3 separate regions of the Homo sapiens genome follow, and all the other regions are reported to be linked to region 1. Evidence: microRNA targets listed by miRTarBase, many of them from high-throughput screens and not tested one by one. Region 1 holds a microRNA gene; each other region holds the end of a gene's coding sequence.
What was found. Region 1 holds the annotated microRNA hsa-miR-6837-5p (ACCAGGGCCAGCAGGGAAUGU, at 1,630-1,650, opposite strand). A microRNA usually pairs through its seed, bases 2 to 8, with sites in the 3' UTR of a target mRNA and lowers its output. Matches are read on the target gene's strand: a 7mer-m8 pairs with bases 2 to 8, a 7mer-A1 pairs with bases 2 to 7 and ends in A, and an 8mer does both.

Region 1 (4,037 bases):
ACAAATGCTTTTGTTACAAATAGTTTTTAAAATTTAAAAAGGTTCTATTATAGGACTGACATAACTCCATGTAGAGGGGGCTGGAAAGGAATGCATCAAAAGGGCACATGCGTGCTAAGATGGTGGGCACTCTCCCCTTCCTCCAAATCCTGACGGTATTACTAAACTGTTTAGAGGGATCATAAAACAAAACAGAACCAGGGCCCACCCTTCTCACGGCACCAGCTCCAGCATAGTCCTTTATCCTGCCCCACTGAGGCAGGCCTGTAGGTGGCCCTGGCAACATCCTGACCTCCCATGCACTCACTGACCGAGAGTGAAGCAGCCTCTGGTCATGCCCTCAAAGGCAGGCAGAGAGCATTAGCTATGAGCACACTCCCAACTCCAGTTCTGATTCCCACTTGCTCGCACCCAGGAACCTGCGAGACCTCAAGCCTGTGAGGCCTGTTCCCAGTGAAGCGGGCCTCACCTGGCCTTACCTTCAGGAAGCTGGCCATGGTGCTGACGTGGCTGGCACAGGCTCCCTTCCGCACATCGTTCACGCCCTCGCCTGTCTGCAACACAAGGATGCCCAGGTTGACCCAGGCCTCCCCCAAAGCCACTTCCCTTCCCTGGGGACCCAACATCTACCCTGTGTCCCAGAAAAGAGAAAACTGCAACCCCCAAAGCAGAACCTATTCTTCTGACTGCATCACATGGGTGAGGTAAGTTCCCATGCCTCCAAGGGGCTCATGGATTCTCCCTGGGCAGGATGGCTACCGGCTTTCGCTGTGGGGGCATTTCATGAATTTTCTTTTTTTTTTTTTTTTTGGAGATGGAGTCTTGCTCTGTGGCCCAGGCTGGAGTACAGTGGCGCAATCTTGGCTCACTGCAACTTCTGCCTCCTGGGTTCAAGCAATTCTCTTGCCTCAGCCTCCTGAGTAGCTGGGACTACAGGTGCACGCTGCCATGCCCAGCTAATTTTTTGTATTTTAGTAGAGATGGGGTTTCACCATGTTGCCCAGGCTGGTCTCAAACTCCTGAGCTCAGGCAGTCCACCCACCTCGGCCTCCCAAAGTTCTAGGATGACAGGTGTGAGCCACCCCACCCAGCCTTCAAGAGTTTTCTTGATCCCCACCAAGGGATCAAGGAGGCCCTGTCCCTGTACTCCCAGGCTCCTAAACACTCCCTCAGGCTCTCTACTCCATCAGAACAACCACCCTCAAGAGCACGGAGCAAGGACTCCCTGTGACTGCTTTTAATCCATTTTGCAGGAAGAACTCTAGGCTTGGAAGGTGAATTCTGCATAGCAAAGCCACAGTTATTCTTTGGGCCACAATGAATCTGTCAACTATTCTGCTCATTCACCAGCTCAGAGCTGTTCTATTGATCTACTAAGTCATGCCAGTAAAACACTTTGTTCCTGAAGTCAAGTCAAAACAGGAAAGAAGACAATGGGGTTTCCTGGGTCACACCTAGATGAAACAGGCTCCACATACCCAGTTGATGAGGACAAATTTGGGCAGTCCAGAGTTGGGGTCCTTCACTCTGCAGAAGGCGTACATCACCTTCCCGCTGTTGAGCTCCTCCACCATCTCCTCCAGGCCACCCTCTGCAGCAGAGTCACAGTGAAGGTCAGGGGTGGCCCTGACATTCCCTGCTGGCCCTGGTCCCACCATGAAGGGAGGCCGAGCTGCTTCTAAACCAGGGCTTCTCACCTCTACCTGTATCAGAATCTTTCTAGGGGTATGTTTAAAATCAGAGTCCTGGGCACCACCCTCACTAAACTGATTGATGAGAGCTGGGTGGGACCTAGAAGTCTGCGATTCTGACAAGTACCTCAGGTAATTTTTTTTACCCACACTCGTTTAAAAACCACTTCTCTAAACCCAGAGGTAATTCTGGAAATAAAAACAGGGTCATTTCCACGGCAAACCAGCCACCAGACTTCCAAATGGAGGATGGCTACGTCAAAATTTTATTGTTGCCACAACGTTGCAAAAGGGCCCGGAATAGCAGGGCCTGTAGAGTCACCACTGCCTGCACCTGTGTCTGCTCAAGTTCCAGGGCCACCCAGACGGCCAGACCAGATTGAACATCCTGCAGTGGCGTAACTGGCTCAGTCCTCAGACTCCAGAAGAGAGGGTGATGGGGACAGGGGGAGCACAGGAGTGGGCAGCTCTAAACAATTCTCCCTGACACTGAGGCTTAGCCCTCACAAACTTTTCCAGGTTATAAGGAGGAAGAGCTGATCAGGTATTTCATCTACAGGGCTCCGTATGAGTGGAGGCAGTCATGAGCCCCACTCTGGGGACAGCAAATTGTTGCATTTGTGGCAGAGCCCTGTCCTGTGCCACTGGGGATGACAGGAAACTCTCAAGTTGTTGATCTCTGCAACTCCCAGTCACCTGCCACACCACATGTCTACTGTTCAATGGCAATCCTTCTAGAAAGGGGACACCTCCCAGAAAGATTGTGAAAGGAAGGGGCTTTCTACCAACAACAGACATCAAACCGTGGAGAACCACTCCGAGTGTTCATTGAACAATGAAGCCATGTCCAGCTCAGGACAGAGGGAGGGGTCAGGCAACTTCTGGAGGAGGAGCAGTCACGGGTGTCAGCTGAGGGGCCCACAGGTCACACTCTGACGAAGCCTACCCTGACAACCTCTGCTCTGTGCTGGCCAAGAGCCTGTCCTTCCTGTAGAGACCTCCAGAGCCTCCCCCGTGACTATCTGCAGTGATACTGCCTCTCCCAGTGAGGATGGGGCCCCTGCAAGCACTCGGCACAAGACCAGGGCAGGACAAAGGGAGAAGAAGATATGTCTGTGGACTTTCTTTCCACCAGCACCAGTTCTGGGACTGGTGAGCTTCCCACCGCAGCTCCCAACGCAGGCTGCCCACAAGCTGGAGAGGCCTGTTTCCCTCTCAGCTCTCCCCAAGTAGACAAAGAGAAAGCACTCCCCTGCACCCAGAGGGAAGGAGAACCAAGGAGGAATGTTTTCACTTACACATATCTGAAACCTAAGGCCTGCCAGAAGTGGCCAGTGAGCACTGGAAGCCCCATGTGGCTCAGTGGACCAAGACAGCTGAGTGCGCTGACCCCTCGTCGTCACCCTCCTACCTCCTGGTGTCCCTGAGTCCATTTGGAGTCATACTCACCCCCTGTGCCAGCCACGCGGATGTCATTGCTGTTGCCTTCATAGGTAAAGAGAGCCCTGAAACGAAACACAAGTGAGCTCTGTAGCCAGCACCTTGGGTTCCATCTCTCCTCACCGTATCCACCATGACTTTCCACTACATCCCAAAGAGCTTGGGCTGACAGTAACACTGTGGGTGGGCACAGGCCCGTTCTCACTTTGCTCTGACCCACTAGGCAGGTTCTCAGTAGGCAACTGTGCAGCCTTCTCAGCTCTGCAGCTGGGAGGACACTGGCCTGACTTACCATGGGGTGGGGGTTGTGAGGGACAAAGCCATGGAGATGGGAGCACACATCTACTATGAGGAAAACATGAGCTGTGGAGTTTCCCAATGACTGCTATACATTCATGTGTCAAATACTCACCTGGCCACTAGGTATATGGATTTGAAGAGACAAAACATATCTACATATTCCTGAACCCAGAGCACCCAAAAGGAGAAGCAAGTCGGAGAAATACACACACTGGGCCCCTTGGAAGGCTGCCCACCACTCCTGTGCACGTCTGCCCTGGCTCCAGTGAAGCCTGGTGGGTAGGGCAGCAGGTCCTTCCAGGCTTGAGACTCTTTGGTAAACACAGACTACCACAGGTTGTGTTTATCAGAAACCACAAAGGAATGACACGACATGAAATCACACAGTTAAAGCCATGAACCTGCCAAGCCCCTCACGGACAGGTACCCATGAGCAAGTTTTCTATCTAGCAGAGCCTTATCTCTCCATGGGTGACATGGGGCCATGGCTTTCTTTTCCTGAAAGATTAATTATTCATAAGAACTTTGGGCTGGGCGCAGTGGCTCACGCCTGTAATCCCAGCACTCTGGGAGGCCGAGGCGGGCAGATGTGGATCACGAGGTCAG
Region 2 (3,000 bases), not on the chromosome of region 1:
CCCAGGCTCTTTACTCTCCCTTCCAACCCAGATCCTGACGTGTGCATCTCTTTTGTGCAGGAGAATGTGATCCGAGAATTTAACTTAAATGAGCTATACCAGCGGGCCAAGAAACTATCAAAGGCTGGAGACAATATCCCTGAGGAGCAGCCTGTGGCTTCAACCCCCACCACAGTGTCAGATGGGGAAAACAAGAAGGATAAATAAGATCCTCACTTTGGCAGTGCTTCCTCTCCTGTCAATTCCAGGCTCTTTCCATAACCACAAGCCTGAGGCTGCAGCCTTTTATTTATGTTTTCCCTTTGGCTGTGACTGGGTGGGGCAGCATGCAGCTTCTGATTTTAAAGAGGCATCTAGGGAATTGTCAGGCACCCTACAGGAAGGCCTGCCATGCTGTGGCCAACTGTTTCACTGGAGCAAGAAAGAGATCTCATAGGACGGAGGGGGAAATGGTTTCCCTCCAAGCTTGGGTCAGTGTGTTAACTGCTTATCAGCTATTCAGACATCTCCATGGTTTCTCCATGAAACTCTGTGGTTTCATCATTCCTTCTTAGTTGACCTGCACAGCTTGGTTAGACCTAGATTTAACCCTAAGGTAAGATGCTGGGGTATAGAACGCTAAGAATTTTCCCCCAAGGACTCTTGCTTCCTTAAGCCCTTCTGGCTTCGTTTATGGTCTTCATTAAAAGTATAAGCCTAACTTTGTCGCTAGTCCTAAGGAGAAACCTTTAACCACAAAGTTTTTATCATTGAAGACAATATTGAACAACCCCCTATTTTGTGGGGATTGAGAAGGGGTGAATAGAGGCTTGAGACTTTCCTTTGTGTGGTAGGACTTGGAGGAGAAATCCCCTGGACTTTCACTAACCCTCTGACATACTCCCCACACCCAGTTGATGGCTTTCCGTAATAAAAAGATTGGGATTTCCTTTTGATTGCGCGTTTGTGTGTTTCTGTATTAGAAAAGCCTGACAACTGCAGAGGAATTGCCCATCTTAAGGGCAAAGGCCATCCTATTTGGTTTCACCAAATGCCGGGCATTGATCCCCAGGACTGGCAAGAGTTGGAGAAGTCTAGTTTCCATAAATCTAGAATAGCGGCCACATGTTGTTAGGTGGTGGGTTTACTCTGGGATTGGCCTGCGGTTGCCAGGGAGGAGAGTTTGGCGGCAGATGGTGGCACACAACATTTAGCGCCATGCAAAGGTACAGAAAAGATTGCGCGAAGCGAGGCTAGCAGTCGGACCTAGTCTCCGCCCCTTCCTGCTGTGTTCACCATCCCAGCGTCCCCTGTCCCCTCCACCCGAAGCGATGGGTGGTTCCGTCAGGCGCTTCCCGCACCTTCCCGCTCCCTGCTTGCAAAGTGGTTGTGCCCCAAGGTCCGCCTCCAGGCCACGTGGGTGCTGCGGGCCAAGCTTTCCCTTCCTTTGAGAGAGGTTTCCGCTGTAGGAGCAGAGCTTCCGGGCTGCGCTCTTCGTTGCCCAGTTTCCGCTCAGTGGTCGCGTCTCCGCCCCCCACCCACCAGTCCCGCTGCATTCTCGGCCGGGCTCTAGGCGCCATGGCTCCCCGCGGGAGGAAGCGTAAGGCTGAGGCCGCGGTGGTCGCCGTAGCCGAGAAGCGAGAGAAGCTGGCGAACGGCGGGGAGGGAATGGAGGAGGCGACCGTTGTTATCGAGCATTGGTGAGGGGCCTGGAGAGTAACGGGAGAGAGGGAACAGTGGCGCCGGGGGGGGCCAGGGGCCCCGGTTTCTAACCTCTCCGTCTCTCCCTAGCACTAGCTGACGCGTCTATGGGCGCAACGCCGCGGCCCTGAGCCAGGCGCTGCGCCTGGAGGCCCCAGAGCTTCCAGTAAAGGTGAACCCGACGAAGCCCCGGAGGGGCAGCTTCGAGGTGACGCTGCTGCGCCCGGACGGCAGCAGTAAGTGGGGACCTGGATGTGGGGGAGAGGGACGTGGGTGAAAGGGACGTGGGTTCCGAAGACAGGAAGCGCTATTCTTAGAAACCACGGCAGTCTCATGACTTCAGAGACGTGCTCGTGGGTTCCGAAGTATTGTAACTTCGCTTCATTCTGGCCTTTCAGGTGCGGAGCTCTGGACTGGGATTAAGAAGGGGCCCCCACGCAAACTCAAATTCCCTGAGCCTCAAGAGGTGGTGGAAGAGTTGAAGAAGTACCTGTCGTAGGGAGATTTGGGTAGAAGCCCTCATGCTGAGGTTTGAAATGGGAAGTGGGGGGCGCGACCGCTGTTGAGGAAGAGAAGGCATTGATCTTGGTGTGGCTACAAGTACCCACCTGGCGTGGGTAGCTCACGCCTGCAATCCCAGCACTCTGGGAGGTCGAGGCAGGAGTGGATGGCCAACACAGGGAGACCCTATTTGAAAACAAAAAACAAAAAAAAGACACAATATTGTTTTCTGTCTAGTGTGCCCTAAGTGGAATTTATGTCCTTTGGGAGACTGTAGTTGACTTGCCCTGGGGGTATGGACAAGTTTTCCATTTGGAAGTTTATTTCATGTTACTTCATTTATGCTTATCCCTACCCTCTTCTGTTTGGTTCTTGGGTGTTCTGTTACTGTCCTGTGTTAACACTGCATTACAATACCATTAAATTTGGTTACAAGGATTTTGACCTTGTCTTTGTCCCTAGTGCTTCATACAGTGCTTTGGCATGTTGTTCTGCACTTATTATGTTGAGTGAGATTTGGAGGAAGGATGCAATCCTTGAGCTTCAGGGTTTGTGAGTTCAAGGGTTGGGGAACATGTCTTCCTCAGTCCTTAAGATTGCCCAGATCCTTTCTCTAACCTTATTTCCCTTCTCATTTTTGCAGCTTTGTGTCCCTGGTGATGTTGGAACATTAATGATGGAACATGGCCAAACTTCAGTCATGATCCTGAAGCCATGGTTTCTTCCCTGCCAGAAATGAAGGTTCAGTTATGAGGCAACCCTCTAGTAAGGCATTGTAAAAGTTACTGGATTTGGTTTAATAAAAGTTGAAATAAAGTA
Region 3 (3,000 bases), not on the chromosome of region 1:
TTCCCAAGGGCCACCCCGCCTCTGGCTTTGGTAACTCTGGAGCAAGGGCTGTGAGCAGCGCTGAGCCCTGCTCCAGGTCACCTGGGGCCTCGTCATGGCTCACCTGTCAGCTGTGTAGCCTTGAGCAAGCCTCTGAGCCTCACCCTGGCAGCCCTGCCTTGCAGCCCTACAGCAGGGTTGCAAGCCTTGTCCCCAGCCAGGAGGCAGGGAAGACCAGAGGGGAGGAAGACTTCCTCGGAAGTACTTTGTCCTCAGAGAGTGCCGCGATCCTGGTGGGCGGGGGCTCCAGCTTGGCCGCAGCCTCCTTGCTTGTCCTGTTCGCAAGCCAATGCTGCAAGCCCCATCAGCGATCCTTGTCGCCTTATCTGCAGGTGCAGAGGACGTGGTGATGGCGTTTTCCAGGTCGGAGACGGAAGACCGGAGGCAGTAGCTGCAAAGCCCTTGGAACACCCTGGATGCTGTTGAGGGCCAAGAGATCTGTGTGGCTCCTGGGCCGGCTGAGTGGCAGCAGCCCCCCTTGCCCCACCTCCCCCTTCCCCTACCCAACCCTGCCCTGCCCCACCCCACCTCACAGCTACTCAGTGGGGCTGGCATCAAGGGAGACACCAGTGGTGCGTTTATAATTGGCTTAAAGGGATGGACTTGTGATTGGCTGCAGGAAGAAACTTTTTTATTTTTTAAATCTTGACCAACAGAAACCTTTTATTTTTATTTCTGACTCTTATTTTTTAAAAAATTTGCGCCTCGGTATCTGGCTTCCCTGGAAGCTCTCCGAGCTCTGGTGCTTTAGTTAGGTCATTTTTTTAGAAATGTGAAGAGGTCTGATTGGCTGCTTAAACTGGAAAGGATCTGTGATTGGCTGGTTAATGGGAAACGGTTTTTTTCTTTGGCTGCAGGTGTTCTGCTGATATCAACAGCTTCCCTATTTTGAATGCAGAAAACAGGGTCTGGGACATTAGTCGTTATATTTGACTTGAAAAGAAAGAAACCAAGTGCGCTTTGCAATATTTATTACACAAAGAACTTGCTGCTGCCTTCACATTTGGGGTTTGTGTTTGATTGGCTTTCGATGCGTGTGTTTGGTTTCCCATTGGTTCACCTGTGACTCCTGTTGCCATGGATTCACCCCCCTCTGCTGCCGGCTCTGGGCCTGAGGGTCCACCTGGAGAGTACATTTGCTTTAATGAGTGCACCTGCCTCCACCAGCAAGGGGACCCCGAGAACCCTGAGCAGGGTCCACAGCTGGAAAGTTGGGCCCCTGAGGAGCTTTGTGTCGTCTTGAACGAGCAGCCCAGGGCCTAGAGGTAACCGTTAGGCGGGATTTATGTGCACTGCCTGCATGAGCTGGCAACCAGCCAGCGTCCCTTGGTGAGAAAGGGATTGCTGAGGCACCGTCCAGGCCCCACCGGCCAGGCCGCGCCCAGCAGAGGCGTACTACCCAGCTCTGTCCTCTTGGCCATCCTTCTGTGTACCACTTCCTGAGGCCTCATTTTGGGGGTCATCTTGGAAAGGGGAGGAGCTTCTCCCAGTGTGAGACCCCAAAGACTCTGGAGGTCATCTGGCGGAGGTCTCTGGGAGCCCAGAACCCACATAAAAGCCCCAGCTTGGCTCACAAGGCCCAGGAGACCTCCAGCTAAACACCAACCCCTGACCTACCCCAGCCAGGCTCCTACCTGTCTGCTGCCAGCACAGTAGGTCCCGGCCAGCTCTGGAGTTCTCTCATCGGAGGCCCATGCCCTCCACTCCACTGCCTTTGGAAGGGTCTCTCTCCAGGTCAGCCTGGAAGGGACAGTATCGTTTGTTTATGAAATGCCACTGGGACAGCTGGCTGGGCCTTCACCAAGCAAGTCCCTTCAGACTGGCCCTTAAGCCAAACTCAGGCCCAGAATTGCAGTTCAGAATGGCAGTCCTGGAGGCAGGGGGTGAGGGGCAGGTCTAGTGTTCCTGCACCAAACCTAAGTCCTTCCACCTGCCACCCCCTTCCCTGGGAGGGAGGTGGTCCTCCTATCTCCCTGGCTCACTGGCAGGTGTGGGATCTGGGGAGAGCGGCTGGAGAAAGATGCAGTCCTCAGGAAGGGGGCCGCCACCCTCCCCTATGCTGGTAGATGCTGAGGCCCCTAGGTGCCCAGGGCCAGTGGGACCCTCTCAGAACCAAATCTTTCCCCTTTCTCGGGGCTTGGGGCTCGGGCCGTAGGGGCTCCTGAGTGTCATGAAGTGCACAGGAGCCAAATGACCGAGCCCTGGAGAGCCCCATGGTGGGTAGGTGGTTCGTGCTGTGCTCTGGCACCATCAGCCTGTTCCAGAAGGAGGATTCGAGCATCAGGCTAAGACCCTGTGTCCTCCACCATGCACTCACCCCTAGCCCTGGTTAGCTGACAGTCAGCTGTGGGGAACACAGCTACAACCCTACCCTGGCAGGGACCTGAGAGCATCTCAGGAGGGGCAGCGCATGTGTGCATGTGCTGTGTGAGTGAGCACACCCGTGTGCACACTCATACACATGTGCACACACACGCACTCTCCCCGCTCAGGGGCCTGGAGGTCTGGCTGAGCCCCTGGGGAAAGGTGAGTTCTTTCATCTCCCTCCTCCAGGTCGGAGTGCCTGGAGTCAGGTGTCGAGGCCACATTGCTGGCTGCCCCCTCTTTGTAGCTCCTATAAAGGGCCCACACCTGGTGGATACCTGGTTGAGTGTGTGGTCTCTGCCCCAGCCTGTCCTTGTCACGATCACAGGCCTTGCTTTTGTAACAATGATGACCCCGGCCTGTCTCATCTTCTGAAGAGGAAAAGTCAAAGTGTTGCTGTGGCTCCATATTTCAACTAAAAATATATCTGTTGGAGAAAGAAATTAACAATAAAGAATTTTCATAGGTTCGTGTGTGAGCTGAGCTGGTTTCTCCCTCGGAATCAGGCGCTCTGACTGATTTCCCCACATCACGTGGGCTCTGCTGCTGCGGGGGCCCCTCCTTCCCAGGGAGGCGCAGCCAGGAAGGACAACACCA

Region 2: miRTarBase lists TMX2 as a target of hsa-miR-6837-5p. Seed matches in the 3' UTR shown: 7mer-A1 at 851-857.
Region 3: miRTarBase lists CTNNBIP1 as a target of hsa-miR-6837-5p. Seed matches in the 3' UTR shown: 7mer-A1 at 450-456, 7mer-A1 at 759-765, 8mer at 2,238-2,245 and 7mer-m8 at 2,362-2,368.

What each region holds. Positions count from the first base shown.
Region 1 is chr7:44,049,384-44,053,420 of GRCh38, reverse strand. It overlaps MIR6837 (microRNA 6837), which reads right to left and starts at 1,655; the gene lies at 1,592-1,655. DBNL (drebrin like) reads right to left here. Exons shown (of 13, transcript NM_001014436.3): 2 at 3,141-3,196; 3 at 1,479-1,591; 4 at 480-554.
Region 2 is chr11:57,740,039-57,743,038 of GRCh38, forward strand. It overlaps TMX2 (thioredoxin related transmembrane protein 2), which reads left to right. Exons shown (of 8, transcript NM_015959.4): 8 at 61-935. The coding sequence ends at 207. SELENOH (selenoprotein H) reads left to right here and starts at 1,453. Exons shown (of 4, transcript NM_170746.4): 1 at 1,453-1,679; 2 at 1,771-1,916; 3 at 2,079-2,209; 4 at 2,825-3,000. The coding sequence starts at 1,558. The coding sequence ends at 2,179. All of the region lies in intron 2 of TMX2-CTNND1 (TMX2-CTNND1 readthrough (NMD candidate)), which reads left to right. RefSeq lists enhancers at 1,155-1,274, 1,595-1,644, 1,795-1,964.
Region 3 is chr1:9,848,148-9,851,147 of GRCh38, reverse strand. CTNNBIP1 (catenin beta interacting protein 1) reads left to right here. Exons shown (of 6, transcript NM_020248.3): 6 at 372-2,872. The coding sequence ends at 430. It overlaps CTNNBIP1-AS1 (CTNNBIP1 antisense RNA 1), which reads right to left and starts at 2,830. Exons shown (of 3, transcript NR_199045.1): 1 at 2,682-2,830; 2 at 1,674-1,779; 3 at 994-1,162. LOC105376717 (a long non-coding RNA gene) reads right to left here and starts at 483. Exons shown (of 2, transcript XR_946952.3): 1 at 104-483. RefSeq lists enhancers at 926-975, 1,056-1,195, 2,330-2,831.